2 separate regions of the Homo sapiens genome follow, and region 2 is linked to region 1. Evidence: fine-mapped expression QTL. A gene starts in region 1. The other region holds a variant in brackets. All regions are shown on one strand. Distances are from middle to middle. Region 1 holds the start of STAT4 (signal transducer and activator of transcription 4). Region 2 holds the start of MYO1B (myosin IB).

What was found.
Region 2: its variant is fine-mapped to the expression of STAT4 in tibial artery (GTEx, PIP 0.96). The same link has a PIP of 0.9 or more in fetal neocortex.

Annotation. Positions count from the first base shown.
Region 1 is chr2:191,142,951-191,159,109 of GRCh38, reverse strand. STAT4 (signal transducer and activator of transcription 4) reads left to right here and starts at 8,116. Exons shown (of 24, transcript NM_003151.4): 1 at 8,116-8,163; 2 at 10,906-11,034; 3 at 12,353-12,497. The coding sequence starts at 10,907. RefSeq lists enhancers at 7,697-7,776, 7,907-7,956 and a silencer at 8,427-8,476.
Region 2 is chr2:191,229,702-191,245,700 of GRCh38, reverse strand. MYO1B (myosin IB) reads right to left here and starts at 297. Exons shown (of 31, transcript NM_001130158.3): 1 at 75-297. It overlaps MYO1B-AS1 (MYO1B antisense RNA 1), which reads left to right. Exons shown (of 4, transcript NR_186085.1): 2 at 1,628-2,081; 3 at 13,724-13,834. RefSeq lists a silencer at 1-376 and an enhancer at 1-411. The variant G/A (reference allele first, on the strand shown) is at 3,824.

The DNA of each region.
Region 1 (16,159 bases):
GGCTGAGCATCACTGTTCTTCTCCATACCTGAATACAGTTCTTTCATCCTTCACTTTTTTTATTAATCTCATCTTCTGGCTTTTTCTGACCACTTCAGTTCATTGTGGTCATTCTTCTGAATTCCTGTGGCATTTACATTTGGCATTGCCATTCAACTGAGCATTATTAATTTCATATGCTTATTTTGTCTTCTCTGCCAATTCAACCCTAAATTATTCTCATTGTGATGTATGAGCTCAGTAAATATTTCACACTGAATTGAATAGATTTCCAACAACTACAAGCTCTAGCACCTAAAAGAGTCTCAGGGGACTTCTGCTTTTGGACATAATAGATTAACAGGGATTAGGGTTTCCAGATAAAAATCCTGGAAGCCCACTGAAATTTGAATTTCAAACATACTTATACTATAAATGCAGGTCATATATAGACTGAAAAAATTATTCGTTATTGGTCTGACATTCAAATTTAACTGGCAGTCTTATTTTGTTTTGCTAAATCTGGCAACCCTTCCCTAGTGGATTACCTGCTCATGTTAAACACACAGCTAAGCAAACAAACAAAAACCGTGAAACAATGATTTTTCAGAAATTGACAAATAGGCAGTGCAAGAGAAGTGAACAAATGAGGCAATCTTTATGATTCTCATAGCTTACTTTCTGGAGAAAGTTTCCAAGCTCCAGCACAGAAAGAGGAAGCTCAAATAGAGCCTGGCATTCTCTCAGAGTTGAAGAGGCAGAGTTGAGAGTTTGGTCAGAATTTACGGGGCAGAGTACCAGGAAGAAGACTGCAAAGGGCTCCCCTTGATTCTTCAGCTGAGTACTGAATAGTCCATGTTTGCAAAGGAACTACTCAAAGATGTGGGGAGGACTCACTAAAGAGGAGCAGGTGGAAAAATTTCTGGAGCTCACACAAGGCTAGGCATAATTTATATTCTCAACAGCCAGAGTGGAAAAAGCTCTTTATACTTGATGAAAGCAGAAATTAGAAATTGTTAAATTGGATAAAAAAGCAAGACCCAATTATATACTACAGACAAGAAACACATTTCAAATATAAATAAATAAGTAAAAAGTAAAATATTGGGAAAATGATATATCATGCTCACACTAATCATAGACACCTGCAGTGGCTATATAAATATAAAACAAAGTAGACTTCAGAGCCAAAAATATTAACAGAGATAACAAGGGTCATTTCATAAAAATAAAAGGAAAATCATCAAAAGGACAAAACAATTATAAATGTTTATGCATCTAATAACAGAGCTTCAAAATACATGCAATGAAATGTGAAAGAACTGAAAGAAGACAGACAAATCCAGGATTATAGCTGAAGATTTAAATATTCCTCTGATAATAGATTGAATAAATGGGAAGAAAATCAGGAATGATATAGAAGACTTGGATAATACTATCAACCAACTTGACCTCACTGAGATTGCAAAAACTCTTCACCCAACAGGAGCAGAGAAGACATTCTTTTAAGTGTCTTAAACATCGACCAAAACATTCTCAGCCATAGATCAAGACTCAATAAATTTTAAATAATTCAAATAACAAAAAAGTATGTTATCTAACCACAATGGAATTAAATTAAAAATGGATATGAGGAAAATATTGGAAAATGATCCAAATGTTTGGAAAACAAAAGTCACAATTCTAATTAATTAATTAATTAATTAAAACCCAAACATAAATCAAAGAAGAAATCACAAGGGAAATTTTAAGTAGAATAAATGAAAATTAAAATACAGCATATCAAAATTTGTTTGATGTAGTTTAAGCAATGGAAAGGAAGAAATATGCAGATGCTTATATCAGGAAAGAAGAAAGATCCAATCAATGACCTAAGTTTCTGCCTTAAAATATATAAGACCTGTAATCTCAGCACTTTGGGAGGCCGAGGCAGGCAGATCACGAAGTCAGGCATTCCAGACCAGCCTGGCCAACATGGTGAAACCCTGTCTCTACTAAAAATACAAAAATTAACTGGGCGTGGTGGTGCGTGCCTGTAATCCCAGCTACTCAGAGGCTGAGGCAGGAGAATCACTTGAAACCGGGAGGCAGAGGTTGCAGTGAGCCGAGATTGTGCCACTGCACTCCAGCCTGGGTGACAAAGCGAGACTCTGTCTCAAAAAAAAATATATATATATATGAGAAAGAAAGCAAACTGAAACAGAAGTAAATAAAAGGAAACGAAGAGTAGAAGTCAATGAAACAGAAGGCAGAAACACAATAGAAAAAAATCCATGAAACCAAAAGTTTGTTCTTTGAGAATATAAATAAAATTGATAAACTTTTAGTAAAACTGTCCTGGGGGGGGAAAAAGAAGACACAAACTACCAATATCAGAGTGGAGAGAGGTAAGATTATTACAGATTTTCCAGCTATTAAAAGAATAACTGGGATAAAAGGGAATTAAAAGAATAACTTGCTAAAAGGGAATATTATAAACAACTTTATGTATATAATAACAGCTTAGATGAAATATATAAATTCTTTGAAAGACAGAAACTGGCAAAGCTCACTCAAGAGAAAATAGGTAACCTAAGTAGTCCTAGATCTAATAAATTGAATTTGTAGTTTAAAAATTTCCCACCAGAAAAAAACTCCAGTCAGAGATTACTTCACTGGTGATTTTTTTTTCAAACATTTAAGGAAGAAATAATACCAATTCTACCCAAGCTTCCAGAAGACATTACAAGAAAAGAAAACTGTAGACAAAGTGTGTCCAGCCCATGGGCTGCATATGGCCCAGGACAGCTTTGAGTGCGGCCCAACACAAACTCTTAAACTTCTTAAAACGTTATGAGATTGTTTTAAAGCTCATCAGCTATTGTTAGCGTTAGTGTGTTTTATGTGTGGCCCAAGACAATTCTTTCAATGTGGCCCAGGGAAGCCAAAAGATTGGACTATGCAATGATCCTCTCTTTTTTGGAATTCATGTTTAAGTCATCAAACTTATTTCCTCTATAGCTCTCTGAGCAAGTTATTGCTTTTCTCATAAGAGCAGATAAGATTTTTAGTAAAGCAGAATGGTTATGGGCTTTGTTTCTGGAGCTCAGACAGTCCTTAGTTTGAATCCCAAATCTGTCCTTACCTCTGATAAGCCTCACTAAAGCTCACTAAACCTCTGTCCCCTTATCTGCCAATTGGAGATAATCATGATATTTAATCCTATGGAGTGCTGTGAGGATTAACTAAAACAATGCATTTGAAGTTCTTGGCACTATGTCTGGCATGGAGGTATATGACTATGATTTGTAAATTGCAATGCTTCTGAGATGGCAGTAGAGGGAGCAGAGTCAATGGGAACTGGACTTCAGAAAATTAGCAAGATTGATATTAAACCCTTTTACAAGACAATGTTCCTGTTCTGATGGAGCTAGAGCAACCTGCACACAGATGAGTCGATGAGATTCACACCAGGCCATCTTATCCCAATAATCCTTGCTGTCCCACTCATGTGGTACTAGCATATGCAACCAGGGAACTCAACGCATCTTTCTGCGTGTACATATTGTCTGTCCAACCTCCAACTCCAGCTCACCCCAGTTTCCTCAGAACACTTAAGAGGGGAGAGGAGAAGTATGGTGATATCACAAAACTGAAACTAGCAAATGTTTATATTCTTTGTACAAAAATTGGGAGAAGGTGGAGCTGGTTTACCTCCCTTACAGCGGCAAGAGTGATATCCTCTCTCTTCCTCTCTCTGTTTCCCACAAAAGCAGCTCCACTGGGCAGAGTGGGAAAAGCACAATCAGAACCGATTTTGAATCCACCCTATCTTCTATTTACAACTGTGAACCTGCCTATCCCACCCAGACTCTCTTCATCTCCATTTCCGCTCTGTACAGCAAGGTGGCAGGGAAGCTGGAGGGTTAACCTGGTGAGTGCCAAAGTTACCCATAACTTGTTTATTATTCTATTATTAACAGCTATTGATTCAGCATTTAACCTGATCCCATTTCTTACATTATATCTTTGACTTTTCCCAGCAATTTCAGGTGGGACATAATATCCCCACTTTTATAGACAGGGAGTTTTGGGGTTAGAGAAGTTAGGTAACTTATATAACTTTGTGCCACTAGAAATTGACACACCAGAACTAGAAGCTACTTTTCTGAAAGTCTTTAATCTGGGATTTTCTTCTTAGCATGATGCAGCAAAAAATTAGATATAGGGCTTATCACCAGGGCAACTGGGTGGCTGTTTGAGAAAGGAGACAGGAATCTGTGGGGGCCTTTGAATTTGGAAAACCTTCCAGGGGTTTCATTTTAGCATTTGGTTTGTTCTTCATTTTACTTCGAATTTTTTTATGTCTTTGTCTCTGAGGGACTGACAAGGCCAGGGCCAGTGTAGGGTCAAGAAACTGCAGACCTGCTTATTTAGTTTTGATTCTAAAAAAGAGAAACAAATTGGACATAGAAGCGCCCTTTCTTAGATGTCTTCCTCCACTCATGAAATACAGAAGGAAGACAGAGGTTCAAGGCAGAAGATTTAACCAAGAAAAAAGTGCGTATTTGGGCAGAGAGTCCCTCATGATAGACATCTCTGGATAAACGAGTTACAGTTGGCAGCATATGGCAAATAGAGCAGAGGTTCTCTAAGTGTTACCTGCAGATCCCTGGGAGTGGTCCCCGAGATCTTTTTAGAGCATCTGCAAGGTTAAACTATTTTTATAATAATACTAATACAGTTTTGTCTTTTCACCCTGCTGACATTTGCACCAATGGTACCAAAGCAAAGGTGGGTGAAACTGTTGGGGCCTTAGCACAAAGCAAGGAAGTGGTGCCAAATTATACTAGCAGTTGTATATTTCACCACCATGCACTTACAATAAAATGCCAGTTTGACTTAAGAATGTTTTTGATGAAGCAGTAAAAATTATTAATTTTATTAAATCTCAGACCTTAAGTACACGTCTTTTTAATATTCTTTGTGATGAAATGGAAAAGGCACATATTAAAGGATGATGGTCATCTCGAGGAAAAGCACTTGCGTGATTGTTTGAGTTGCCAAGACGAGCCTGTCACTTTAAGGAAAACAACTGGTAGTATCTGCTGCCAATAATAAAACTGAGCTTTCAAGCAAAAATTAGAATTTGAGCTTGACTGCTTCCCAGTATTTAAAATACTTACATGATGAGATCAACATTGATATTACCTGACATGAATTTCTGAACACTGTATGATGAAATGTTGTATTCATTGTATGATGAAGTAGGCAGCATTTAGAAAATCTGCATACTTCAGTGGACCAATGTTTTTTAAATGACCAGTGTCTGACATTGCAAAATAATTTGTGGGTAATAGTTTCATTCAAAATATATACAACAAAAGATTTGAATGTAACAGTATACATAAAGTATATGTTTACATAAAGTATACATAAAGTATATGTTGATAAGGTTTCAGATTTCACAATGCAACTAGCCCTTCAGAAACTACCACTCATTGAGTTTTGATGTGGTATCAAAGAAGAATAATTATTTGAAAAGGTCATTATAATACTCCCCTTTTCCAACTACATAAATGTGTGAGTCCATACTTTCTTCAAATATGTCAACCAAAATAATACTTTGCAGCAGATTAAATGCAGAAACAGATATGAGAATCCAGCTGTCTTCTCTCAAACCAGACATTAAAGAGATTTTTAAAATGCCACTCTTCTCATTACGTTTTTCATGTTGGAAGATATATTTGTTTTTCTTAAAACATGTTTAACATGGAGTGGGTTTATTATTGTCATTTTGAAGGAATAAATACATATTTTAATTTTTTCTCAGATTTAAGTTTTAACACAGTAAATAAAAATTTCATCCAGAACAGTAATACACAAACATTCCTTGGGTTTGTCAACAATTTTTAAGGGAATAATGGTATCTTGAGAACAAAAGGTTTAAAAACTGCTGTGGAAGCCGCAAGGTAAGGCCCTGAAAAGGAGGAGGAGAACAAACTCTGTTTTGTACAGCAGGCACTCAACAATTGAATATGATAATGATAAGGACATGTAAAACCAGTGTGACTAACACTATGAGGCAGGAAGTGAAAAGTGCTAAATAAGTGGTCTAGATGTGCACTGTCCAACACGGCAGCCACTAGCCATATGTGGCTTGGAATGTGGCTAGTCCTAACTGACATGCCCTGTAAGTGCTAAATATACACCAGACTTCAGAGATTGAGTATGAAATAAGGAATGCAAAGTATCTTATTGATAATTTTTTATATTGATTATATGCCAAAATGTTAAGATTCTTGTATATATTGGGTTATTTACAATATTAAAATTAATTTCACCTGTGCTTTTTTCCTTTTTAATATGGCTATGAGAAAATTTACAATTACATATGTGGCTTACATTTTATTTCTCTTGGAGAGCGCTGGTTTGGACAGGAAGTATGAAGAATTTGGAGCAGGGAAACATTGCTGTGGGTTCAGGTCATCGGGAAGTCTTCACTGAGAACTATAGGATTTCACTAAGTAGGTAGGCTCAGGGAGGAATATCCAGTTGAAGAAAGCCTCGGTAGTGAAATATGAGGTTAATCTGGGCAGCTGAGGTGACTGCTTGGGTCACATCATGGGCTCTTATAGGGGAGAAAAGTTTCCTGGATAGGTTGGGACCAAACTGTACAGAACTTAAACTGCCAAGAATTTGGATTTTTTTCCTATAGGCAGTGACAGCTTCTCCAGAAGAAAATCAGACTTTGCTTAGTAGCTTATGGAATAGCCTGAAATTGGCACTTTCTTATGTAGGGTCAGAGCAGCATAAGCTCCTGGAAACTGCCTGCTCAACAAGCAGTGGGGACCAGGCCTACCTAACCAGGAAATTTACAGTGATATGGAAAGTGTGACTTTGGATTGATTGACCTATTTGGGGGTGGGTGGTAAGTTTAAGCACATGATAATGTCACCTGGGAGAGAAGAATCCAGAGGGTGTACCTGTGTGAAACCCGTCAGGGAAGAGGGAGGCAGGCCTTTCACCTTGGTATATTGCTCTAAGCATGTGTATAACCAAATTGAGTGACACTTTCTACCTTTCTTTCAGTCTGTCTGTCTGTCTTTATTTTTGTCTTTGTTTTACTATTTTTACTTTCTTAAACATTTTTATTGATTTTTTAATATACGGTGGGATTTTACTGTGTTGCCTGGGCTGGTCTCAAACTCCTGGGCTCAAGGAGTCCTTCCACTTCAGCCTCCCAAAGTGCTAGGATTACAGGTGTGAGCCACACGCCTGGACTTCTCTTTATTTTATTGAACCCCTACTGTGAATCAAGGGGTTAAGAGCTAACTACAAGGAGATGAAATGAAAAGACCACTGAAGTGGGAAGGGAAACACCTGGGCTATTATCGGGCTCCGTGGCTAACTTATTGAGTCCTCTTGGTCACCTCACTGGGTCTCTTCAGATATGAAAGAGGATTTAGCATTAGATGGGACCAAGACTTCCTCCAACTCTGTGATTCTAGAACAGGCTGATGTCACAAAGGGAGAAGAACGCACCGTAGCAACCAGGGGCAAGGCTACTCAAGGAGAGTAGGAGGAGGCTAGGTCAGGAAGGGCAAGCACTGGTGGCCTACCCAGGACTTGGCCCAACCCTCTGGGTCAGGTCACCCTCGTCGGAGTGAGCGGACCCCGCTGGAATTGGAGCCCAGTAAGGTCTATGAGTTTGGTGTTTTGATCCTGGCTACCCATCCCTTCCATCCCAGGGGTGGTTCACCAGGCTGAGTGGAGCCTTATACTAGGGAGAGAGGAAGCTGAAGAACTGGGCTCCAGGTAAGTAACTCTGCAGAGGATCTCAGATTGTCTAAGGAAACCACTGAAGAAAATGTATGCCCCGCCCCTCCCCTTTTTCCTGGCACTGCTGAGCCACCTGCAGTTGCGAGAGCCGCTGGGAGGGATAAGAGGGAAGAGGACGCCCGGTGAAGGGGCTCCAGCCTGGCAGTTTCTGCGTGTTAGCATTTCTAGAATAGAGTGGGTGGGAACTGACCCAAGTAAAGTCCCAGAGACTCGAACACTGACGCACAGGAAAGCCTCAAGTGGGAGGAGAAATGCAAATCCCCTACTGATGATGGCGTCAGCGGCTTTCTCCTAGGGACTGTGAGGGGCGCTTCTGACTTTGGACTTGAGCACTGCCTGGGACCTGTGCTGAGAGAGCGCTAGGTAAGTGGCCAGACCACACCTTCTGGCTGCCTCTTGTAAGGAGGACATGCTTATTATGCAGGATACTCTGAAGCTTTGCTTTCCCTTGGCGTTTTGACAATTGCTTCATTTTAACCTTCCTGAGGAGGCTTATTATAGAAGGAAGCGCCCGACTCCACGACCCACAGATGCGCCCTGGCACGGGTTCTCCGCGGAAACCGCTCCGCAGGCCCGCGCCACGGTGCCCGGGCGAATCTCCCTGCGGGGGCCAGGGGAGCTGCGGCGGCTGCGGAGGTGTGTCCTCGCGGAGGCTGAAAGTGAGCCCCTCTTCACTTTCTTAGCCAGCTTCTCTAGAGCTGTGATGTCTGACTTTAGATTAGCGTACCTGGATTTCAGAAAAAAGCTTGCAGCTACGGCAGCCGGTGACTGTGGCTTTGATGGGCGCGAGTGACATTTTAGGGCAGGTCATCTCCTTTTGCAAGCTACAGGCCACAGAGCCAAAGCGGCACCACCAGCTCACAGACGGTGGGACAAAATGCCCCTTTAGTGGGATCTTCTAGGAAATGCACGCAAAAAGGACAGACAGGCACTGAGTTTTCAGAAGCAACGTCACAGTTTTCATGAGAAAGAAGTAGCCCCTAGAGAGTGAAAGCAAAGAAACCTGCTGAAGGATGTCTAAAGGCGTTCCCAGAGGCTGCAATAGAAAATGTCCTAGGACTATGTATTCCTTCTTCTTCCTTTTTTCAGCTTTGAATTCAGCTCTCCGAAAGACTCAGATCTTAGTAGTGATTTTTTTCGGTGTTTATTTTTATTTTTTTTAATTTTCCTTTTATTTTCATTTGACACACAATTGTAAATATTTATGGAATATACAGTGATATTTCAATAAATATGAACAATGTGTTATGATCAAAGGATATTCAGCATATCCATCACCTCAAACATTTATCATTACTTTGTGTTGTGAACATTCAAAATCCTCTTAGCTTTTTGAAAATATACACTAAGTTATTGTTAACCATATTCATCCTAGTGTTACAGCACTAGAACTTATTCCTCCCATCTACCTGTAAGTTTTAGTTAGAAAATAGATTTTTCATCCAAATCATAGCGGGGGTTTAACAATAGTATGATGAAAAACTGTAATGCTATTTTCAACTCATGTTCTCTGTTGTCATTAACTAAAATAAATTGATAGATAGGACAATGTTGATAGTAGCATGAGAACAAATGTTCCAATTTTGTGTGGAATATATACACATCCGATGGAATATATATACATCCGATATCTGGAAAAACAAATGGTTCAGACTCAGGAAACCTCAGGTTGTCCCTTAGAAGCCTCACACATTAGGCAGGCGTCATTTCGCCTATTTGATCTTCAAGTTTTTCCTTTTTAAAGTTGACATACTACTTATATCCACCTACCATATTCATAGCAATGTCAGGAGTGCCACTCATTCTTCATTTAACAAGCATTGATTGAGCATTTACAATATGCCTAGAATTGTAAAGTGTAAAGGTTTTCATAAATATAAAATGATATGCAAATAAAACATTACTTCTTTTCCCACTTGCTTTCTCTTTAGCAAAACATTGGCAACACGTTTTTTTATAAATTTTAAGTCATTTACCAGGAGCTCAGGGAAAAGGTGCTCAAAATGATTCTACTTAAAACCCAAAGAATATGTATATGAAATATATGAAATTACCCTGGTGTTCTATAGGCAAAAGGAAACCTTAGCCTATCTATGAGATATGTTGAAATGTTATGGTGATTAATCATGTAAAAGGGGGTTTGGTGTTTTTACTTGACTTAGAATTGCTGAGAAAACAACCAAAAATTTGACTTTGGAAAACATAAAATGCTGTAATTTCAAGGAGGCAGCGTCATACTAATTTTCCTGAGTTAGGAAATATGTCTACAGCTTCTAAATTGGCCAGAGTGGGGTTACAAGGGGGAAATGCGTACTTTTCTTTTATGACAGGCTGCCAAATAGGTATCAAGTGTGGTTTCTTACTCCTTAAGTAACTTGAGGGTTTAACCACTATCAGATGTTTCTCAGAGACAAAAAGACTACATCCTTTAAGAGCTTTGCCCATCTATAATGGATCCTCACAGAGAGAAATGAAACACATTCACTGGTTCAGAAATATTTTTAATTTAAAAAACTGGAGCCTACGAAAATGCATACATAAAATTCTTCATGAAGCTAAGACAAAATTGGACTAGAAGTCAAGAACATAAAGCTGACTCTAGAAGCCAGACAAATCTGAAATAAAGAAAAAAGAAATTTGGCAATTTCATATAAAAGAAGCTTCTTGGGGGGTTGTTCCTCACATATAAAGTCTTAGAGGGTTTTAGGAGGTATAGTAAATGTCAAATACGTTTGCCTTCAAGTTGCTCCAAGTCTAAATGTTGAGGGGACAAGAGATAGGGAAAGAGCTTGTTGATAATAGAAATTCACATAGACAGCTGTGGGCAGGATGTGGGGTGTTTGGCAGAGTGGGAGTGAAAACTTTTTGGAGCAGGTAGAACAGGAGTTCATTTTAGAGCAAGGAAGGCTGTAGTTTAGGGGCACAGAAAGAAGGCTGCTCCCTTCATTAGGGTTGAATTATGAAAAAAAACCTTAGTGAAATTTTTGTATCCTTGGATATATTGGAATTCAGTCATAACATTGACTAATTCTAAGGAAAGAAGAAAATATGTACTAGGGCTATGAACAATATTTTAAAACTCTAATTCTACACCTTCTTTTATAGCATGTCTCAGTGGAATCAAGTCCAACAGTTAGAAATCAAGTTTTTGGAGCAGGTGGATCAATTCTATGATGACAACTTTCCCATGGAAATTCGGCATCTGTTGGCCCAATGGATTGAAAATCAAGACTGGTAGGATCAAACATATTTTCCCTAGAAGTTGATGCACAAATGTCTGATGCTCTATCCATGTGAATTTATTTTATGGTCCACTTTTTACTCAGTAGATGCATTCTTTTCAGGTAAAGAACTTTCTCAAGGATTTGAAAGCCTTCCCAAAGAAGGGGAATAATTGTCCTTTCTGGTTCCATTCATTGTAAATGAAAAGTTAATGGTTCCAGTGCTTCTTTTCTCTGTAAACAAAAACCCAAATAATTTTTCATGTATTAAAAAAAGAAGCAAATCAATTGATTGTCAGTTCTCTATCACAGACTCAATGTAAATCAATATTTTTTTCTCAGTAAGATTTATACTCTTCAAAGCTCTATTCACCTTATACCATTTAATTTTTTTCAGCCATCTTTTTTATTGTGGTAAAATACACATAACATAAAATTTACCATTGTTTTTGGTGTACTATTCAGTGGCATTACATATATTCACATTATTATGCAACCATCACCACCATCCATCTGCAGAACTTTTTCATCTTTCCAAACTGAAACTCTGTACTCTTTAAACAGTAACTCCCTAGTCCTCCACCCCCAACCCCTGGCAATCACCATTCTATTTTCTGTCTCTGTGAATTTGACTACTCTAGGTACTTTAGATAATTGGAATCACACAATATTTTTCCTTTTGTAACTGACTTATTTTGCTTAGTGTAATGTTTTCAAAATTCATTCATGTTTAACAGGTATCATATCAGAATTTTCTTCCTTTTTGAAGCTCAATAATATTCCATTGTTTGTATATATCACATTTTGTTTTATAAATGTATCTGTCAATGGACATTTGGGTTGTTCAAACATTTTGGCTATTGCTAATAACCCTGCTAGGAACATTGGTATGCAAATATCTGTTTGAGTCCCTGCTTTTAATTCTTTTGGGTATATATCCAGATGTGGAATTGCTGGGTCATATAGCAATTTTATGTTTAATATTTTGGGTAACTGTCATATAGTTTTCCACAGTGATTGACCATTTTACCTTCCCACCAGCATTGCACAATTTCTCTGTATCCTCACCAACACTCATTTTCTGTTTTTTCTTTTCCTTTTTATAATAGCCACCCTAATGGGTATGAAGTGGTATCTTACTCTGATTTTCACTTGAAATTCCCTAATGATTAGTGATGTTGAGCATCTCTTCATGTTAACAATTTAATTTTTTAAAACTTTTAAATGCTTATCACCATGTAATAGGTTTATTGTTTTAAAGTTAGTATGGTAAAAAAGTAGACATTTTACAAAGTTGTTTTCTGTTGTGTAATAATCCTTTTTTTTTTTAGGGAGGCAGCTTCTAACAATGAAACCATGGCAACGATTCTTCTTCAAAACTTGTTAATACAACTGGATGAACAGTTAGGTCGTGTTTCCAAAGAGAAAAACCTACTCTTGATACACAATCTAAAAAGAATTAGGAAGGTCCTTCAGGTAAGAATGCATTCTACTTTTCCAAAATATTTGGATATATGAGTCTTAAATTTAGTTAAAAATTAAATATGTACCCTTATATTATTTTCAAATGAAATTTAGGGGAAAATTGAGTTGTCTTACCACTTACAAATTTTGTGCTCAATTTTATTACCTAACATTTTTCATGAAATGTTGAAAATAAAATACACTAAAAGTATAGTGTATAAAATACATTACAAGTGTGTTGCATGTGGGACTTGCATGTATCTTGTTTACTAGCTATGATTCAGTTCAACAACACTGACCAGACCACAGTTTCACGGCTCTCCAGCAGCCCTCCCTTGCCTTTGTCTCTTAGGTAACAAGTTAGAGTTAGTATTGTTCTCATTCCTAAATGAGAGCATCATGAGTGAATGTATTCTTACAGATTTGGTTCAGATCTCACACTCCTTTAAAAGTGTTCTTTGGTACTCTCTGGTTCACCCAGGCAGAGCCCATCTCTGTGTGTTTCCTCAGCACCAGAACACATCGATACTGTGGCATTTAGTATATTCGACATTATTGCTATTTCTATGTGTTTGACTTCTCTCCCTATCATGAGTTCCTTGAGGCAAGGACTTTAGTGTTCAACTTTGAATTTCCAGCACCCAGCATAAGTCTGGACTTGTGGTAGATGTGCAATGTTTACTGATTAAGGGGTGAGTAAATCAAGTAAGTGAATCAGGGATCTAAAGAATTAAAAGCAGGCTAATATGGAGCTAAACCCAACAGTTCTAATGTAATAAACCCTGACCATGGACTGCTATAATATTTACTGAGTGCATACAACGTATTAAATAACAGAAAAAGTGCTTTGTGCCATTCTTCATGGAGACATTTTTAGAATCCAAAACCTACAATTAACACATTTTTAGAACATTTTAACTAGACTATAATAGAAATGTTCTTGACATTACATTTGTGAGAAGGACAAATATATTGTTTTTCCTATTGTTGTTTGGATTGCGCTGAGCTATCTTTGCCCTTGTAATCCCCTGTAAATCTGCAAGACACTTGACTAAAAACAGGACAATAGCATATTGCCGACAAAACAGGATTTTTGGCAGCATACAGCAATCTGTCTTTTATGGAGACAAATCATTTAATGGTGGCTTTATTAGCTTAGTGATCTAATCTATAAACCTAAAATGGGGATTGGCATGCCATGGCCCACAAGTCAAAAGGCCACTGCCCATTTTCATATGGCCCATGACTAAGAATGGTTTTTATATTTTTAAGTGATTGGAAAAGAATAAAAATAAAATAGATCATAAAATTTAAAATAATATTTCTGACACATTAAAATTATATGAAATTCCAATTTCTGTGTTTTATTGAAACACAGCCACACTCGTTGGTTTACATATTGTTTATGATTGCTTTTACACTACAATGGCAGAAGTTGTGATAGAGACAGCATGACCTATACAGCCTAAAATAAAAATATGTGTGTGTATTATATATGTGTGTATATATGTGTCTCATATTTACATATGATATATATGTATATCACATTTATCTGGCCTTTTATAGGAAAGTTTGCTAACTCTTAGCCTACTAGTAAAGAGTCCATAGGTCACTTTGCTAGATAAGCACAGATGGGGAAAATATTAATAGATGATGCATGGTCTTTGGAACCAAGAAGGTCTGGGTTAAAAATCTGACTCTCAAATGTGGCTTTGAGCAAATCACTTAATCTTCTGACCTGTATCTTTTAATGTAAACAAAGATAATTATTATCTACCTTTTGGAATTGTGAGGAAGTCTGGAGCTTTTCTTCTGGCAAGATGTAGGCATTCAATAAATGATTCTTATTGTTGGTAGGTAAAATAGCAGGATTTTCTCAGTGTAAATCAGGGGTAAGAAAACAACCCATCTTTTGTGGGCTGGAGGATAAGATTGTGAGGGAAGCTTCTCCTCTGGCCAGTTGTATCAGACGAACCTTGTTAAACCATCACTTCTATTTCACTACGCCACTGCTCAAAAACCTGCAGTTACCCCCAGTCACGCTTCAGCTCGAGCACAAACTCATCTGCATGTGTTAATTGGCCCTCTAGCATCTTTCCTCTTTAGACCTTTCCCAACAATCTTCCTTGAGCTCCTCCACATCCCTACCTCAGAAAAATAGATCTACTACTTGTTCCTGAACACGTCACACACACTCTTGAATGACTCAGCCTTGTCCATGACGGTCCTATGGCCAGGAATGCTCTTCCATCCCTCTTCCACCAGTCTAGTTCCCATCCATCCCTAAAGAATCTATGTAGGTTCCAGTGCAACAAGAAAACCTTCACCACATGCTTTAGTCTGTGTTCTCATCCTCCAGCCCTCCAGCAACAACTACAAGGTAAGCAGCATCTCCTTCTGTCCCTTTCATCTGTGTTGCATGTGTGTCAAACCAGGTCACAAGGTCCTTGAGGGTAAAAGGCTGATCTCCTTTTCTGACCCCCCTCCCTCACCCTCAGTACTCAATATGGTTCTAGTGCACACTAGGAATTCAAAAAACAATTTGGTGAATTAAGATATTTGAGTTGAAAAAAACACTTGCTCTTTCTTGTGCTTCCATATATATCAATTTATAAATTGTGCTTACTGGGCATTTGTATTAACAACACAGAAGCTAGTAGTAAAAATCATTGTCAGCTATGGTTTTACACCTAAACAAACCTGAGTTTTATGCTTCTTTTTAACCTACTATAATCCCATTAAGTTGTGTGTGTTTTTTGCGGGGAAGGGTGGTATGATGAGTCTTTTTTAAAAAATAAGATCCTCTCTTCCCCACAAAAAAGAAAAAAAAAATTCCCTATCAAAAGGCTGTTGACGCTGTGCTTATCTGGTTTAAATATTTTCATCCTCTGGGATTTTAAATACAAACCATGTTGACAATTACAGCAAAAAGGAGTAAACAATATGATACCTGGGGAACTAAGGGATGTATAAGGTAGATTTATTTTGGTTCTTTATAGAACAGCTGAGATCTCTAGTTTCAGTATTTTATTATTTATATTACACCTACTTCCAATAACAGTTTGGAATGGCTTGCTATAAAGGACAAAACAAAACCAGTTTCCCGATGGCAAATTCAAGAAGCTCCAAGGTGGAAGCAATAAACACCATCGTTCAGCAGCCCTTGGCCTATTTAAGGGGAGGCAGACTCACACCCAGGAGCAAGGGTTACTTGAATCCTGGCCCTGCCACTTGCAATGTGGCCCTGAGTAAGATATTCACACACTCTGGCCTCAGTTTCCTCAGCAGTGTAAGGGGCAATCACACTGGTACTTTCCTCACAGAAATGTTAGGAGTATGGAGATAATTGATTCTAAAACCTGCAGCAAGAACCATAGTCTTTTGCTAAAGGTTTGCTAAAAATAAATATCTGCCCCAGATAATTCAAGAATGCTTTGCTTTAAGAAAATTAATGGACCTTAAAAAAATTAGTGCAGTTTATTTTTAAGAGTAGTTTTAGGTTTACAGAAAAATTGAGCAGAAAGTGAAGTTCTCATATACTTCCTTCCCAGCTCCACATCCCAGTTTCACCTATTATTCATGTCTTGCATTGGTAGCATACATTTGTGACAGTTGACGAAATAATATTGATACATTATTATTAACTTACATTTCAAGACTACATTAAGATTCAC
Region 2 (15,999 bases), 87 kb before region 1:
AGCAGGCGCCTCGGGGGCCGACGACGGACGCAGAGGGAAGGGCAGGGGAGAGAGAGAGAAAGCGCTCGCGCTACCTCGCCTGGCGCTACCTCGCCGGGCGCCACTCCGCCTCCACGTCGTCCTCGCTCTCCGGTGGCGCTCCGGGACGCGGGCCCAGCCCGGGGCTGCGGGGCTCCCGCCGCGGCTGTTCTGCCAAGGCTGTCCCGCGGCTGCCGGCCGACTGCGCGCCGCGCGCTCTGGTACTGCCTCCACGCGCCGCGGTTGAGGCTCCCGTGCGCACCCAGCTGCGGAGTGCTCAGCGGCGGCGGGAGGAGCCCGGCCACTCCCCTCTCGCCCGCTGGCGGAGGGGCCGGCCGAGGGGCGGGGGCGGCGACCTCGCTGCCTGGGATTCGCCCCTCGGCGCGCGGGCAGGAACGGGAGCCACCGCCTCCGAGCCGACTCACCTCTGTCCGCCCGGTGCCGGCTTCACAGCGCCCCCCGGTGAGCGTCGCGGCGGCCTCCGCGCCTTGCGGGTTTGCGGCCCGACCCTCCGCACCCGGGGCGAGCCTGGATGGGACGAGGCTTGAGGGAAGGAGGGGCGATCGTCGCGGCCCCCACGGAAGGCAGTCTTTCTACCTTTTTTGCTTCCAGACTCACTGACATAAAATGAGAAATACAACATTTGACAACTCGAAGCCAGCCTGGGGTCACATTCCGGCAAACAGTGGGAGTAAGTCTCAATTTTTCCTCCTCCCCAAGATGAAAATTTTTGGATGCCGAGAATATCAGAAAATATTAGTTTCACAGAAAAAGAAAAAAATTATACTGAGTGGTGTGGTGTGTCTTCATTTACAAGACTTTTAGTATCTTTTAAATTACTTAATCTCACATTGTGGGAAATAGACACTGGCCAATTCTTTGTGTTATAAATACATGAGAGGTAGTTTAAAAGAAATTTCAAATACCCATACGTATTTGAATAGAGTGTATTAACAGGTCCTGAGTAATGATCAGTGATGGGGTATATTATACAGGCATGTAGGGGCCAGAGAATCAGGACACCCCCCCTACACACACACACACACCTTCTCACTCAAGCCCTATTGCCTCATTGGAGAATTTAGAACAATCCTCTTGACCCAGGTCCTGGTTTCTTCATCCTCGCACAGGGAAGGGTGCGCATTCAAACTTACTCACTGGGTGAGATGAGGATTACTTGGCTGAGGTGTTAAAAGCACTGTAGACACAGTAATTATTACTCATGGTTCTAACTACTTTATCCTATAATGAAATAAATTGCCATAAATGGGCCAGGTTTAAATGGACTGACCTGTATCTGGAAACTGTCACTAAAGTGAGGTGAACCAAAGAATTCAGACCATATATAGTAACTGTTCCCACTGGCATAAGAACCACAGGCGCTGGGATTTGTTAAATGCCACTAGTAGAGTTTGGAAAGGTGGGACCTTCACAGACTATATCTGCTGGGAACTGTCTCATCATTGATGTCACCATCAGCATCACTTCAGATGTACAAGTGGTGTGATAATGGGCGAAACTAACACATACTGGGTACCAGGGACTGTTCTTTGTTTAATCCTCACAAAAAGCTCTGAGGTAAGTTTCTCTCATTATCCTTGTTTTACAGACCAGCAAAGCCAAGGACAGAGAGGTCTTCAGGGAATACATGGCTATGGTGGTTTGAAGACTCCCATTAGAGAGTGGATATTAATTGCCCTCCTTTTGAATATGGTCTGGACTTAGTGATTTGATTGTAACAAATAGAATACAGCAGATGTGATGCTATGTGACTTCCAAACCTAGGTCATAAAAGGAGATGAAGTTTTCACCTGGCTCTCCCTTGGGACACTCACCCTTGGAACCCAGCTGCCATATTGTGAGGAAGCTCAAGCCACAGGGAAGGCCATGTGTAGGTGTTTGGGCTGATGGTGCCAGCTGAGGACCTGGTCTACTGCCAGTACAACTTATATCAAGCATGTGAGTTGGCGAGCTTTTGAAAGAACTCCAGCCACAGTCACTGACCACGCTGCCTGAGAGACCTAGAGAGAAAACCTAGCTGAGCCAAATCAGGCCCCGGAAACGTAAGTGATAATAATAAAAGATTGTCATCTGGGTGGTTGTTACATAGCAATAGACACCTAGAACAGTGACAGAGCTGGAATTTGAACCCAGATAGTCTGACTCTATAGTCTTCACTATCAAGCACACTACCTCAGACCTTGATAACCTAGCATAATGAAAACCCTGGAGATCCCAGCCTTCACAATAGGCAACATATGAACCTGCTACCTGGTGACGTGTGTTAGACTCACTTCTCCATTTTGCTTGTCTGAGTTTAGGTTCCCAAGTGACTGCTTATAGCAGTTTGGCAGTTCATGGAACTTCTGACCTCTACTGTCCAGTTCAGCTTTTCAAAAATAGCAGAAATGCAGATGGCAGGTTCATGAATATAAGATGTATACAAATTGAAGAGTGGGGGAATTCTATAAACTTTTGATCTTGGAAGGTGGCCAGATTTTAGAAAAAGTAGGTTTGAGACAACTATGTGCTGAGTAGGTCTATCAAAATAGCTAGCTACTAGAAGTAAAGTTTTGAAACTCCTGACTCAAGAAAGGGATAGGACACAGTTATGTCAGAACAGTTCGGCCTCTAGAAGGACCTCGCATAGTGAGGACAATTAAGACTTTCTCCATGATTTTAGCAAGTTCAAAAAAGAAAATAATAGAAACTGTAGAACTTATCCTAATAAACACTAAGAAAATGAACCAAGTTATTAGCCAAAAATATTTCTAGAGAAAAATCATGCTTCTCTTTTAAAAATACTGTTTACCTAGTTTTCATAAATCTCAAAACCCAAGTTTCTGAGGACATACAGGTTTTAAAACACTTTTACCTTCCTGGCCATTTTTTTCAAAAACCAATCAATCAACAACTTTTGAAATTATAAAAAGCAGATTAAAGTTATTCCCACAATTGTCAAGAATAGATAATAGGCTGGGCGCAGTGGCTCACACCTGTAATCCCAGCACTTTGGGAGGCTGTGGCAGGCGGATCATGACGTCAGGAGTTCGAGACCAGCCTGGCCAATATGGTGAAATCCCATCTCTACTAAAAATACAAAAATTAGCCAGGCGTGGTGGCACGCTCCTGTAGTCCCAGCTACTCAGGAGGCTGAGGCAGAAGAATCACTTGAACCCAGGAGGTGGAGGTTGCAGTGAGCCAAGATCACGCCAGTGTACTCCAGCCTGGGTGACAGAGCGAGAGTCCATCTCAAAAAAAAAAAAAAAAAAGAATAGATAATAAATCCATCAACTACAAAGGCATTTTTTACTTTCTCCTCAATCTATTTGGAGGAAACAGAAAGAAATAAAAAGAAGTAGAAAACTATTATTGAGATTTAGGGTGAAAAACATAAATTATCAAATTACAAGAGTGCAATAAAAGAATACAAGAAGTGTGCTTTGCCTCAATGGAAACATGCAACAATTTAAATTCATTCAATTGAAATCTTGCCATCCTTGTGGAAAATACAGAAGTAAAAGCATATCTCTATGTATCCCAGGAAGGTAATTACCACTAGGCATGTAAGACTTATTTTTTCTTAGTTGGTTTTACTTGAGCCCTTTCAAGAAAATTAAAAGGAGTTCAACATTGACAAGAAGACTGACGAAAGAACCATATGACTGCCTTTTGGTGTAGCAAACATAAAAGTGGACTGGAAGTCATACTTTTAGATTTTCTCACTGGCTCTGTCTTCATTCAACTAAGTTTATGAAGCGGCTCATACTGTTTGTCCTTAGGTATTTTACATCATGTTGAATGT[G/A]TTAAAGACTCTATCTTTAAAATTCTCAGTCTTTGTTTTTGCTATATTTTGTCTCTCATCTACCCACCCAAACAGTTTTCACCTGCTTTACTTATCTTTTTTTAAAAAATAAAATAAAGACAGGATCTCGCTCTGTCACCCAGGCTGGAGTGCAGTGGCACAATCACAGCTCACTGTAACCTTGAACTCTTGAACTCAAACAATCCTCCCACAATCCTCCTGCCTCAGCTTCCCAAGCAGCCGGGACTACAGGTGCATGTTACCATACCCGACTAATTTCTTTGTATTTTTTGTAGAGATAGGAGTCCCACTATTGTTCCCCAGGCTGGCCTTGAGCCCCTGGCCTCAAGTGATACTCCTGTCTTGGCCTCCCAAAGCACTAGGATCACAGGTGTGGGTCACTATTCCCAGGCATTACTTATCCTTTCAAACTAAATTCGGTTTTCACCTATTCCTGACCATCATCTTGAATTAGATTCTGCTTTCTTTCGTATGGTAGCATCTGAATGCCACATCCTCTCAGTACCTATTAATTTGCCCCAGGTCATGAAATCTTTTTATTCATCCTCTTCTGGATGTTTGACTTCTCCAACTAGATAGTAGGCCTCGAGATAAAACTAGTCAATCAGTTCGAAAACACCAGGACTGAGATAACATCAGTTTTAGAGAGCTGACTATCCTAGGAAATATTCTAAATGCTCTACATATGTGTTAACTCGTTGAAGCTGCACAGCAGCCCAACGAGGTAGGTTATATTATAATCCCATTTTAGAGATGGTGAAGCTGAGGCAGGCAACTTACGCTGAGTGTGGCTGCCTCTCCTGCCTCCTTTCCACCTCCTCCACCTCTTCCACCTCTGCTACCCCTGAGACAGCAAGACCCACTCCTCCTTTTCCTCCTCCTCTTCAGCCTACTCAGCATGAAGAGGATGAGGATGAAGACTTTGATGATCCATTTCCACTTAATGAGTAGCAAATATATTTTCTCTTATGATTTTCTTAATAACATTTCCTTTTTCTCTAACTTACTTTTTTTGTAAGAATACAATATATGATACAATATAAAATATGTGTTAATAGACCATTTATGTTATCCATAAGGCTGATATGTCAACAGTAGGCTATTACTAGTTAAATTTTGGGGAGTCAAAAGTTATACGTGAATTTTTGACTACATGGAGGGTCAGCGTCCCTAATCTCCAAGTTGTTCAAGGGTCAAGTGTACTGTATTATTTCTTTAGCATATGTCTCTTAGTTTAGGATAGTCCTCCAAATGCAGTAAGCACTGAGTTAGCTATTTCTTAAATAGCTTCATACAAAATAAAATATTTTAAAATATATTTAAAGAGTGCTTTAAAAATAAGTGCTTCATGTTTAAAGTATTATTTGAAATTCAGATTAGGTATTACAAAAAAAAATGTTTCTATAGCATTGTCGGTGTCCAAAACTCAATGGTAAAAACACAACTCTTATTCTAAGTATTTAACAAACTATAGATAAATTACATCAAGAATATTTGAAGGTAAAAAGACCGATGGAACTTATCCCAGGCAGGGAGAAAATTTACTAAAGCTATTTGAGGATAAAAAGAGTAATTTGAAAAGCTCACAAATAGGGTCCCTTTTAGGTACTGTACTAGACTATTTGAAAATCAAAAACAATTCTTTATTTTAAAAAAATGTAATTTGAGCACTAAAATCAGGCAGTGAAAAAGTATAATTTTTCTCCACAAAATGCATTTCTCTACAGCTCAGAGTACTCTGAGCCACAAATAAATTATAGACCCATTGCCAGGAAATTTAAATTGCCTAAATTTTTTCCCTTGACATTTTATAATTTAGCATTCTGTCATTTCAACTAGTAAAATAGTTGTCTCTTATTTCTTCTCATGCTACAGCAGGTTAGTACTATGATGGCAAAACCTAGCTGTGAAACAATAAATCAATCTGAAAAATGGCTAGACTTTTTCCCAATCTTTTTAAAAAATCATTTTCATTTTTCTAATGATAACTGGGGAGCTGTCACCTCATTGCTGGGGAGACCCTAGGAGTACTGCAAGGAAAAGCAAATATTATGGCAAAGGAAAAAAAATATTGGCCACCTATACCAAATGAAAAGTAATTTAGCAAACATATGACGTAATAGTCTGTTTCTGCTTCAGTCCCTAAAACTAAATCCATATATTTGATCTGGTGCATACATTCATCACAGGTGTTAGCATATGAAAATGCTGTAGAGAAAGATAATTGTGTGTAACTCAAAAATATCCTATTGTATTAACAACCAAAATGGCATAACTCTAGGTTTAGGGACCATTGACAGAATAAACCAAAATTTAAATTAGAAATATAAGCAAAAGGTTAGTTGCCCATTATTTCAGCTGCATTCTCAATCTTGACATCTGTACGACATGAGAAACTCCATGAGGGTGGAGTTTGGTTCACTATTGTGTTCTCAGAGCCTAAGAACATAGAAAGTACTCAATAGTGTTAGATTGAGGAACTAATTTCATGAGTTATTATTATGTTAGGTAAATCAAGTTAGCCTATAATCTCTGCCAAGAATTTCAGATATCTCATTAAAGACTTTCCAGAGCGCAAGGTAGGACAAAAGCAGTTCTTGCTGATGGAGTTGCAGGAATGATGTTCTTAAACTTTGAATAAAGCTGGAAAAAGTTTATAGAGAGTAGCACCAAAGCACAGCCCATCTCATGCAGAGGAAGACTCATACCATGGAGGTCAGGGTGTTGACAAGCAACCCAACTCCCCAAGACAAGCATGGCCTTTGCTAAATAAAGATGCCTGCATAATCCTTCCCATTAGACACATGCTATACTCTGGGTATTTTTCCTGAAACCCATTCATGCCAATATGAGTAAGAGAAGAGAGCAGAAGCTTGTCTTACATTCTTATGGGCCCTCTTGCCAGGCCCCAACCTCATCTGTCCCCAGCCCCCCTCTCAGTGACTGGGAGTGCTACAAAGTTCCCATAGATCTTGAGTCTGGACCTGAGATAATCTTGACACAGCACATAGGCCCCAAACGTTTTCCCCTCAGGGCCATTGGGTCTATAAATTGCTTCAAAAAGTCATTCGTTCCTAGTCTCTTCAAAACTCTTATCTACTCCCTGAGGGGTTCCTTCAAAGACCTGCATGTTTCTTCAAGTCCACAGTTTCATTAAATTGAAAATCATGTTTTATAATTTTATAGTTTGCCTTATAAATCTTTATCAGTCAAAAGCAGCTATCACCCTGAAGGTTTACCCTGGGCAGGGGAAGAAGAATCTCTTTATTTTTGGTACATAAGTTCCTTGGTGCCTAAATACTTTTAGTCCCACTGGGTAACTTTGATGGGTGTTGTAATTGTTCTAGATTATCAGACATATAACAGTCTCAACCCTGAGGACTTCTTCCATTCTAGTGACTTGTGATCAGGCACCACTACCCCAGGGCCAAAGAGTGAAGTAGATGAAATTTGTCCTACATCAAGAAGTATTTACTGAGTATTCCTGAGGACTTCTTCCATTCTAGTGACTTGTAATCAGGCACCACTACCCCAGGGCCAAAGAGTGAAGTAGATAAAATTTGTCCTAAATCAAGAAGTATTTACTGAGTATCTATTTAGTCCTGTGCTAGCCCTGTCACTACAACAAGATGGTAAACATGACGGTCATGGTCTGTGACTTCCTAGAAGGTAGGGTCTAGCTTCAGGTCTTTGTCTTCTTGGATATACTCCCTGTTCCTTTGTAACGTCCCCCCAGTCCCAAGGCAACGAGGACCCTGATGCTGCTTCCAGGCTCCCCCAGGCCTCACCAGCCCTCTTGACCTCTCGTGTCGTTCCAAGTGTTTTTAAATCAGTAATGTGCAACCTGGGGCTCAAGGGCTACAGCACAATCCAGGATTTCAATTCTGAGTAAAAGATTAGAAAACGGCCTTTATGGTCCTCTTTTTCAAACATTTAAATATTGAATTTCAAATATTCAAAATTTAGTAACTAAAAGTCACTCATCAACACTTTTCTAGCCAATCAAATAAAAAAGAAACTACTTGAATTGCCTTTTAAACTGTGGCCCACTATGAACTTTCAGATTTCAAGCTATATTTACTTCTTTTCATACAAATAACTTTCAAGTTTTGTAATAATAAATGAGTATTATTTTTATAATCAGGAAAAAATAATAAAGCTATTTTCATCTTGGACAAAATATGTGGCCTGCAAATTTTTGTTTTTCTGAATTGGCCCAACTGAAAACATAAATAAATAAATATTGCTTGAGTGGTTTTTTCTAATACCCTTCCATCAGAACATTTCAGTACTTGGTGATTTTTCCCGTTAGGTCATGTTAGAGACTGGCAAATCTAATAACCAACTTATGCTGAATGAGGGTTTATACTAATCACCCACGGAGAACATTTGCTTTGAGTGCAGGTCCTTGGATTTCTTTATTGCACTCTTTTCCAGAAGAGATTCTTCTTTCCATATCATGAAGTCATGTGTCCAAGGTAGTAGGCAGGGTGGGAGGCATCGGTAGGAGTACTGGGGGAAGTCTCCCCATTGCAGGCTTGGTGGTTGGCAATGAGGGCCACTTCAAAGGAGAATTTCAAAGAAGAAACACAATCTGCCAAGGGCGATGCATCCAAGATCCTTGGGCCAGTTTGATGAGCTTGCCTTAATGCAAAAAAGAGAATAAAGTCAAGATTTTAGGTAGAGCTGATAGAGATGGGGGAGGGGGTGGTGCATGTATCTGCTAGAGCCTTCAAAAATGGCTGGCCCACTACATATATGTGAGGATTTATATATGGTGTTATGGACTGCATGTTTATGTCCTCTCAAAATTCATATGTTGAAACACTAACCCCCAGTGGGATGGTATTAGAAGGTAGGACTTTTGGGAGGTGATTAGGTAGAACCCCCATTATGGGAGTAGTTTCCTTATAAGAAGAGAAAAACCAACGTTCACTCTCTCAGCCACGTGAGGATATAGCAAGAAGGTGGCTGCCTACCAACCAGGAAGCAAGCCCTCACTGGACACCAGATCTGTCAATGACTTAATCTTGGACTTCTCAGTCTCCAAAACCATGAGAAATAAACATTGTTTAAGTCACCCCGCCTATGGTATTTTGATTATAGCAGCCCAAACCAATACATATGAAATCTTCAAACTCCAAACCAGCTGTTTCCTAAGCTAGTTGCTATTGCAAACAACATAGTTCTACCTGGTTTCTGTTCAATAGTTTATCCATAACTTCTTGCCTTTGAAATAAATTCTGGAACTTAAAGATTATACCCCCTCCTACCCCTATCACTGAGATGTCCAGGTGAACTCTATCTTCATTAGTAACCTCAGTGTGTGATGGGCATATCAAAGTCTTAAGTATTGGATGACGCTTTATAGTATACTATATGATAAATATATTTTTGGGAAAAAAAGATTGCTTTTATAATATAAATAAGTAAAGTTTTAAGAAATCAGTTTGGTAGGTGGAAGTATCCAGAAATTTGAGCTATGATCTTCTGGGAGAAGGGGGCTCTATCTGATCAGAATTTAGGGGTGACAAAGTGAAATTTGTATGTTTATTGAAAAAGAAGCCTGTATCTTAACAGCTCTCTACCCAGCAGTCAAGTTTTTTAAAGTTTAGTATATGGTTTCTGTCTACTTTCTCACTTCACTTTCACACCCCAGTCCTTTGCTCTTATGACTACATTAAAACTGATTTTGCCAAGGTCTGCAGTGATCATCTGTCAGTTGCCACATCGTTTCTTTTTTCTTTTTCTCTTTTTTTCTTGAGATGAGGTCTCACTCTGTCACCAAGGCTTTTTGTGTACAGTGCAGTGGTACAACCCCAGAATCAAGCTATCCTCCCGCCTCAGCTTCCCAAGTAGCTGGGACTACAGGCACACGCCACCATATCTGGCGGCTAATTTTATTTTTTGTAGGGAGGAAGTCTCCCTATGCCCAGCCTGGTCTTGAACTCCTGGGCTCAAGTGATCCTCCCACTTCAGCCTCCCAAACTGCTGGGATTACAGGTATGAGCCACCGCGCCCCACCAGTTGCCACATCTTAAAGGCAGTTTTGGGTCCTCGTAGCATTTGACTCCTCTGACACTTGGCATCCTACTGCCTTCTTTTTCTTTTTCTTTCTTATTTATTTATTTATTTATTATTTATTTTTGAGATGGGGTCTCTCTGTGTCACCCACGCTGGAGTGCAGTGGCATGATCTCGGCTCACTGCAACCTCCGCCTCCGGGGTTCATGCGATTCTCCTGCCTCAGCCTCCTGAGTAGCTGGGATTACAGGTGTGTACCATCATACCCAGCTAATTTTTTTTTTGTATTTTTAGTTGAGACAGAAAACATTACCTCCTCTGAAAAGGTCTTCTGATCCCCCAAACAAGAAAAGAGCACTTATTCAGTGCTCTGATAAAATTCTGTTGCCTACATCATGGAGTATATCACACCATGATCAAACTACCTATTCAATTATCAGTCTCTTTCACTACACTGAGACAAACTTGAGGGCAGAATCATGTCTATTTATTTTCCAATGCTGTGTGTAACCTAAGTCCTGGAATATAGTGGGCACTCAATAATGCTTGTTGCATGCATGCATGTATGCATGTGTGCACAAATGAATGAATACCAAGTGTTTCCAGTATCTTCTTTCATGGCTCCTTCATAGCTGTTATCACTCACTTTGAAAGATTGCCCCATCTTCTTATAGCAAACCCCAATAATTTTTGCATAATAGTTGTAAAAAGCAAAAATATAACAAATAGCTACACTGTTTAAAATAAAGCTGATTTTTTATTTCTAGACAGTGATTAATTGACATCTCCTGTACTTCTGCTATACACTCTCATACCTTGATGCTAAAGAATTCCCACTTCTGCAGAAACAGATGCACTAGGCTGACCCCACTCAACTTATCACTAATGTTTCATAATAACTTCTATCTCTACTTCAGAGCCAACACATATGTTTTTCTTAATTTTCCTGCAGAAATCAGTCTATAAGTATTCTAAATTTCTAAATGTTTAAGCTCAAAGAGAAGATTTATTGGGACACTTTAAATACTTATTTCTTGCTTACATGGGCTTGAATGATCACAATGACTCAGGATCAATTGTATTTCATCTTTTCAGTACTTATTTCACAGCTGAGCACTTCTCAGAGTTATGAACATGAGTCCAGTTTTTGACAAGCCACAGCAAAGGCCAAAAGAATGAGCAAAATTATCCACTCTGAAACCCACATGGGACAGCAGGAAGTAAATAGACAGCATCTGCCATGGCTTATTACAGCATACATGTTACACTAGGCCCCAAATCAATCCCAAAATGGAAGTCTTGGGTTATGGGTCTTTCACCACAGGAAAGCAACATACACATATATTCAACAATAACACTTCATAAATCTCTGCCCCAGTCACCGAACTTTATCTCATGTGGTGCCAATAAGAAAGAGGAATATCTTAAAACAGCAGGAGGAAATTACAGTTTCACATACAGAATCCTTCAATATCACTATAGAGACATCTTTTTACACAAGTAAAACATGGAACTATCTTCCTTAGGGTGAGTCCAAAGTGTCTGACACAAAAATAGTGTCTGATAGACTTCATGTTTTGAAGTTTAATTCATCACTTAAAAGGAGGTAAACTAGAAGAAATTAAGTTATTTATAAAACTGTAGTTACATAATAGGCACCACCCAGGGCATCCTGAATGAGGATAGAAGAATATTATATGGCCAAGGACCATACATGGTAGGGGTAGGGTTCTGAATCTGGGATTGACAAGCTTTATGCCAAAGTGTGTGTGGTTGCGTGTGTATGCACCACATAAACACACATAGATGTACACAGGCTCACTCACAATCATGGTACGTGTGCATTTTTCTCTGCGGAAAGCATTTTGACCATCCCTTAGATTCTCCCAAAAGGCCTTTGACTCACAAAATGCTACAAATCACTCCTCCATAGCAAATATTTCCCACATTTATAAGCCAGGGGATGCTGCTATCAGGTGAGATTCAAAATTATTGGACATGTGATGATGAAAAACACATTACTGGAGTACAGAAGCATTGGTGCGAAGCAGACAGGACGTGCCCACTCAGATGGGAGTGAAAGGGAAAGTGACTTGCAAATTAATAAAGTAATGCTGTCCAGCGTTCCGCTCTAGAAAACTGTTATCTGAGATGTTTTTGTAATCTTGAACCCCCTATTTTGGTCAGGGCCCAATTAAGAAAACAGAAACCACTGTAGGTGTCTCAAACGGGTTTAATGCAGGAACTTGTTTTTTGGTGTTTTTGGTTTGTTTGGTTTGGTTTGGTTTGGTTTTGAAACAGGGTCTCGCTCTGTTGCCCAGGCTGGAGTGCAATGGCACAATCACAGCCCACTGCAGCCTCAACCTCCTTGGCCCAAGCAATCCTCCCACCTCAGCCTCCCAAGTAGCTGGGACTACAGATGTACGCCACCACACCTGGATAATTTTTTAGTTTTTTGTAGAGACAGGGTCTCACTTTGTTGCGTAGGCTGGTCTCAAACTCTTGGGCTCGAGCAATCCTCCCGCCTCAGCCTCCCAGATTGCTGGGATTACAGGCATGAACCACCATGCCTGGCCAAGAACTTGTCATACCTGTGATGGAAGAAGCAGAACCCAGGAATTAAGAAGTGGGGTAACAGAAAGAATAACAACAGTCAGAAGCCACTAACTCCCCCAGGGCTGGAGAAACTCAGGGAGAAGATGGTGTTACCAAAGCCTGGAAGATAGGAGAAGTCAGAAGCACAGTGCGGGGCATTCCTGACAGATGCTGAGACAATGAAGGGAGGGGCTGTTCGCCAGCAGCTAAAATCATAGAGGAGAAGCAGCCACTGCCAGAGACACCATCAAAACAGGCAGAGAGGAGGTGAAATTCCCTGGCTTCCTCCCTCTTCCCACTCTCCAGTCTTCTGTTTATGCTTCCCTTTGGTTCAGCCTATGTGGAAGCCAGAGGGCAAGGGAACTGGAAAATGCAGTCCCCTGTGATAGACAGCAGAGCAGGGGAAAGGCCAGAGCAACCAGGGACATCACCAGCACATTCCCTTTTATGAAGATGATGTTGGGATGGGTTTGAAGAGGAAAGCCAAATCACTATGGGATTCTTCATTGATATGGAGTGGGAAATGGAGGTGAAACAAAGAAAGACAGGGAGGAAAAAGGGGGTTGGCAAAGATTGAAAATAAAGAAGAAAATGAGAAGAGGAGTAGTGGAGGAAAAGGTGCAAGGGAATCTCTCCAAGGTTGCTGGGACAGCTGCTCTGATTAGAGGCTCCATTCATACTCCAGGAACAGCAGTAGGCTAGAATAGGCCGATAAAAGAATTAGAGAGCTGCAAGCAACCTTAGGAACCAGTAGAGAACTAAAATCCGTAATTTGATGTTACTGAAGTTTGTTTAGATTGAATTCATTATTGATGGAAATTAATGTGAATTTAATTCTCTCCTGTCAAAATGGAATTTAAATATCTTTCAAGAAACTTATGAAGGGATTTCAGAAAGCCAAATCACTGCAGGCCCTTCTGTTCAGCACAAAGGGAAAAAGAACTGAGAACAAACAAAGCAGCAGAAAAAATGTGTGTGGGGGGATAGGGTGTGGGAGAAAAGAGCCCAAGGGATTTCTTTAGTAATGTTTGTTTATGGCTGTTTCAAATTAAGGAACTAATTTTGGATTGGGGAATAAATAAAGTTCTTTGAGAAAAAGAAGACTATTGCTAAGAACACAACGCCGCCTAGAGTTAAGGGGGAAAAAAACCTCTAATCACACTTAAGTTGGCTTGTTTATTTTTCTGATGTTAATGTGTTTGTGAAAAGAACCCAACTCTTGCTATATTTCTTAATGTTTCCTGTTTGGCTGCTCATCCAGATAAATAACCAGCACCTCTGCCTGCTTTCCTTACTCAAATCTTTGATGAGACCATCTTTTCAGAAGAGGCAGGTGCAGCACCTTTGGAACCTGCATTAACTCTCCCAGCAGGTCAGTAGTAATTCAAAGCCCATACTATACTTCCTGGGTTCCATGGACTCTACTTCATGGGCTGGTGCATGGGATTTTGCCAGATGATTAAAGATGTCTTGGCCCAGCAATATGCTTTGGTTAAGAGCTTAATAGAAGAAAGTCCTTATGAAAACAATCAACTTTTAAAAGGCCAGTTATCTGGTTTGAAATAGAACCTTCAAAGTGGGATTGCTAGAGCGCCCGCCCTGGCATACCTGAGCTGTGGCTGAGGAGTTTGTACAAATGACATAGGATTGTTGCTGGCTTTTACTGAGCTGTGCTCAGCAGCATAAGAAAGGAAGCAGAGGCCTGTCTGAAGCTATAAAGTGTTTCATGAAATAATTTTGCCAGTATGAAGACTTCATCCAGGAATAGTTTTTGTTTTTGTTGTTTGAGCCACCCAAAGAGAATATTGCTATGAGAAGTTTCCCGTTTAATATTCAGTCTCAACCAAGTTATTAATAGAAAGTAGTTCATGGCAACCATTTCTAATGTGCTGATAAATGCCTAATATTACAACAGCCAATGAAATATTGATCTTCTTATGTGGATTTTCTTAAAATAGTCGCTTTGGTCCTACCTTTTAGAATGCTGAAAATGTGCCATTTCTGAAATACATCTTCTTAGCCATTTTCGTTGTAGCTTGCAGGCCATATTTTTCAAATTCATGAATGCATGAATCCATGCTAATTCAAAGAGATGTTGGTACTGCAGAGAGCACAAGGTGCTATTCCCACTTTAAGGAGTTTATGATAATCCGCTAAATCACCAATCTGAGTTATCAGTTCAATCCTTTTTTCTTCTCTACCACTAAAGCTCCTTAAAGGTAATCATTATAATATTGACAAGTTATTAAATGCCTACAATAATAAGCCAGGCACAATACTGACTTCATTTAATGCTCACAAGAATCCGAAGTGATAGATAAATTAATCATACCCCTTTTAGAGAAATGGAAGTTGAGTTTCAGCTAGATTAATTTCCCAAGAGTTACATAATTTGTATGCAGTGGGACTCAAATTTGTATGCTGGGACTCAAACTCGTAATTTCAAAGCTCATGCCCTTAACCACTATAGCTAGAGCTGGCTTCTTGGGGTGGCACCTGGGCCATAGCACGGGGCCCAATGCCTCAAAAGACCCACACTTGGATTAATGCTCTGTTACCACTGTCTGGAAACTCTTAAAGAGGGGTCCTGCGTTTTTATTTTGCTCTGGGTCTCATAATTCTTGTACCCAGTCTTGACTACACCACATTTCCTGACATCCTAGATGAATACTATATGTGGAGGTTTTAAAATGTGTCCACAAATTCTTCAACAGTTTTTCCTCCAAAAGATAGAACCTAATTCCCACCCATCACTTAAGTGTGGGCTAGCCTAATGACTCACTTCTAAAATATGACAGAAGTGGTGGTGTGTGTGTGTGTCTTCATGATTAGTAATAAAACACATGGTGGCTTCTGGCTCTTTGGATCACTTGTTCTGGGAAAAACCAGACGCCATGTTGTGAAGATACTAAGGCAACCCTTGGAGACGTTCATGTGGTACGGAACTGAGGCCTCCTGCCAGCAGCCGTGTTAAGTGAGCCATCTCAGAAGCATTCAGACAAACGTTCAAATGACTGCACCCCCAGTCCAGGGCTCAAATGCAGGCTCATGAGAGACCCTGAGACAGAACCATCCAGACAATCATTAGATAACTACTGTATCACAGAACGCTGGAATTTTAAAAAATGACAGGAATATGCAGTTAAAAGGTGAATATGGCCAGGCACGGTGTAATCCCAGCACTTTGGGAGGCTGAGGTGGGCAGATCGCTTGAGCTCAGGAGCTCGAGACCAGCCTGGGGAACATGGTGAAACCCCATCTCTACAAAATATACAAACATTAGCCAGGCATGGTGGTGAGCATCTTTGGTCCTAGCTACTTGCAGGGCTGAGGTGGAAGGATAACTTGAACCAGGGAGGCAGAGGTTGCAGTGAGCTGAGATTGTGCCACTGCATTCCAGCCTGGGCAAACAAGTGAGACCCTGTCTCAAAAAAATTTTATAAAAAGGTGAATACATCTTATGTCCTCCAATATTTGGTGCAATGTTAAAATTAATTTTAAATCTCTTCAGAGTGTATAGACATTTTATTCTTTTAT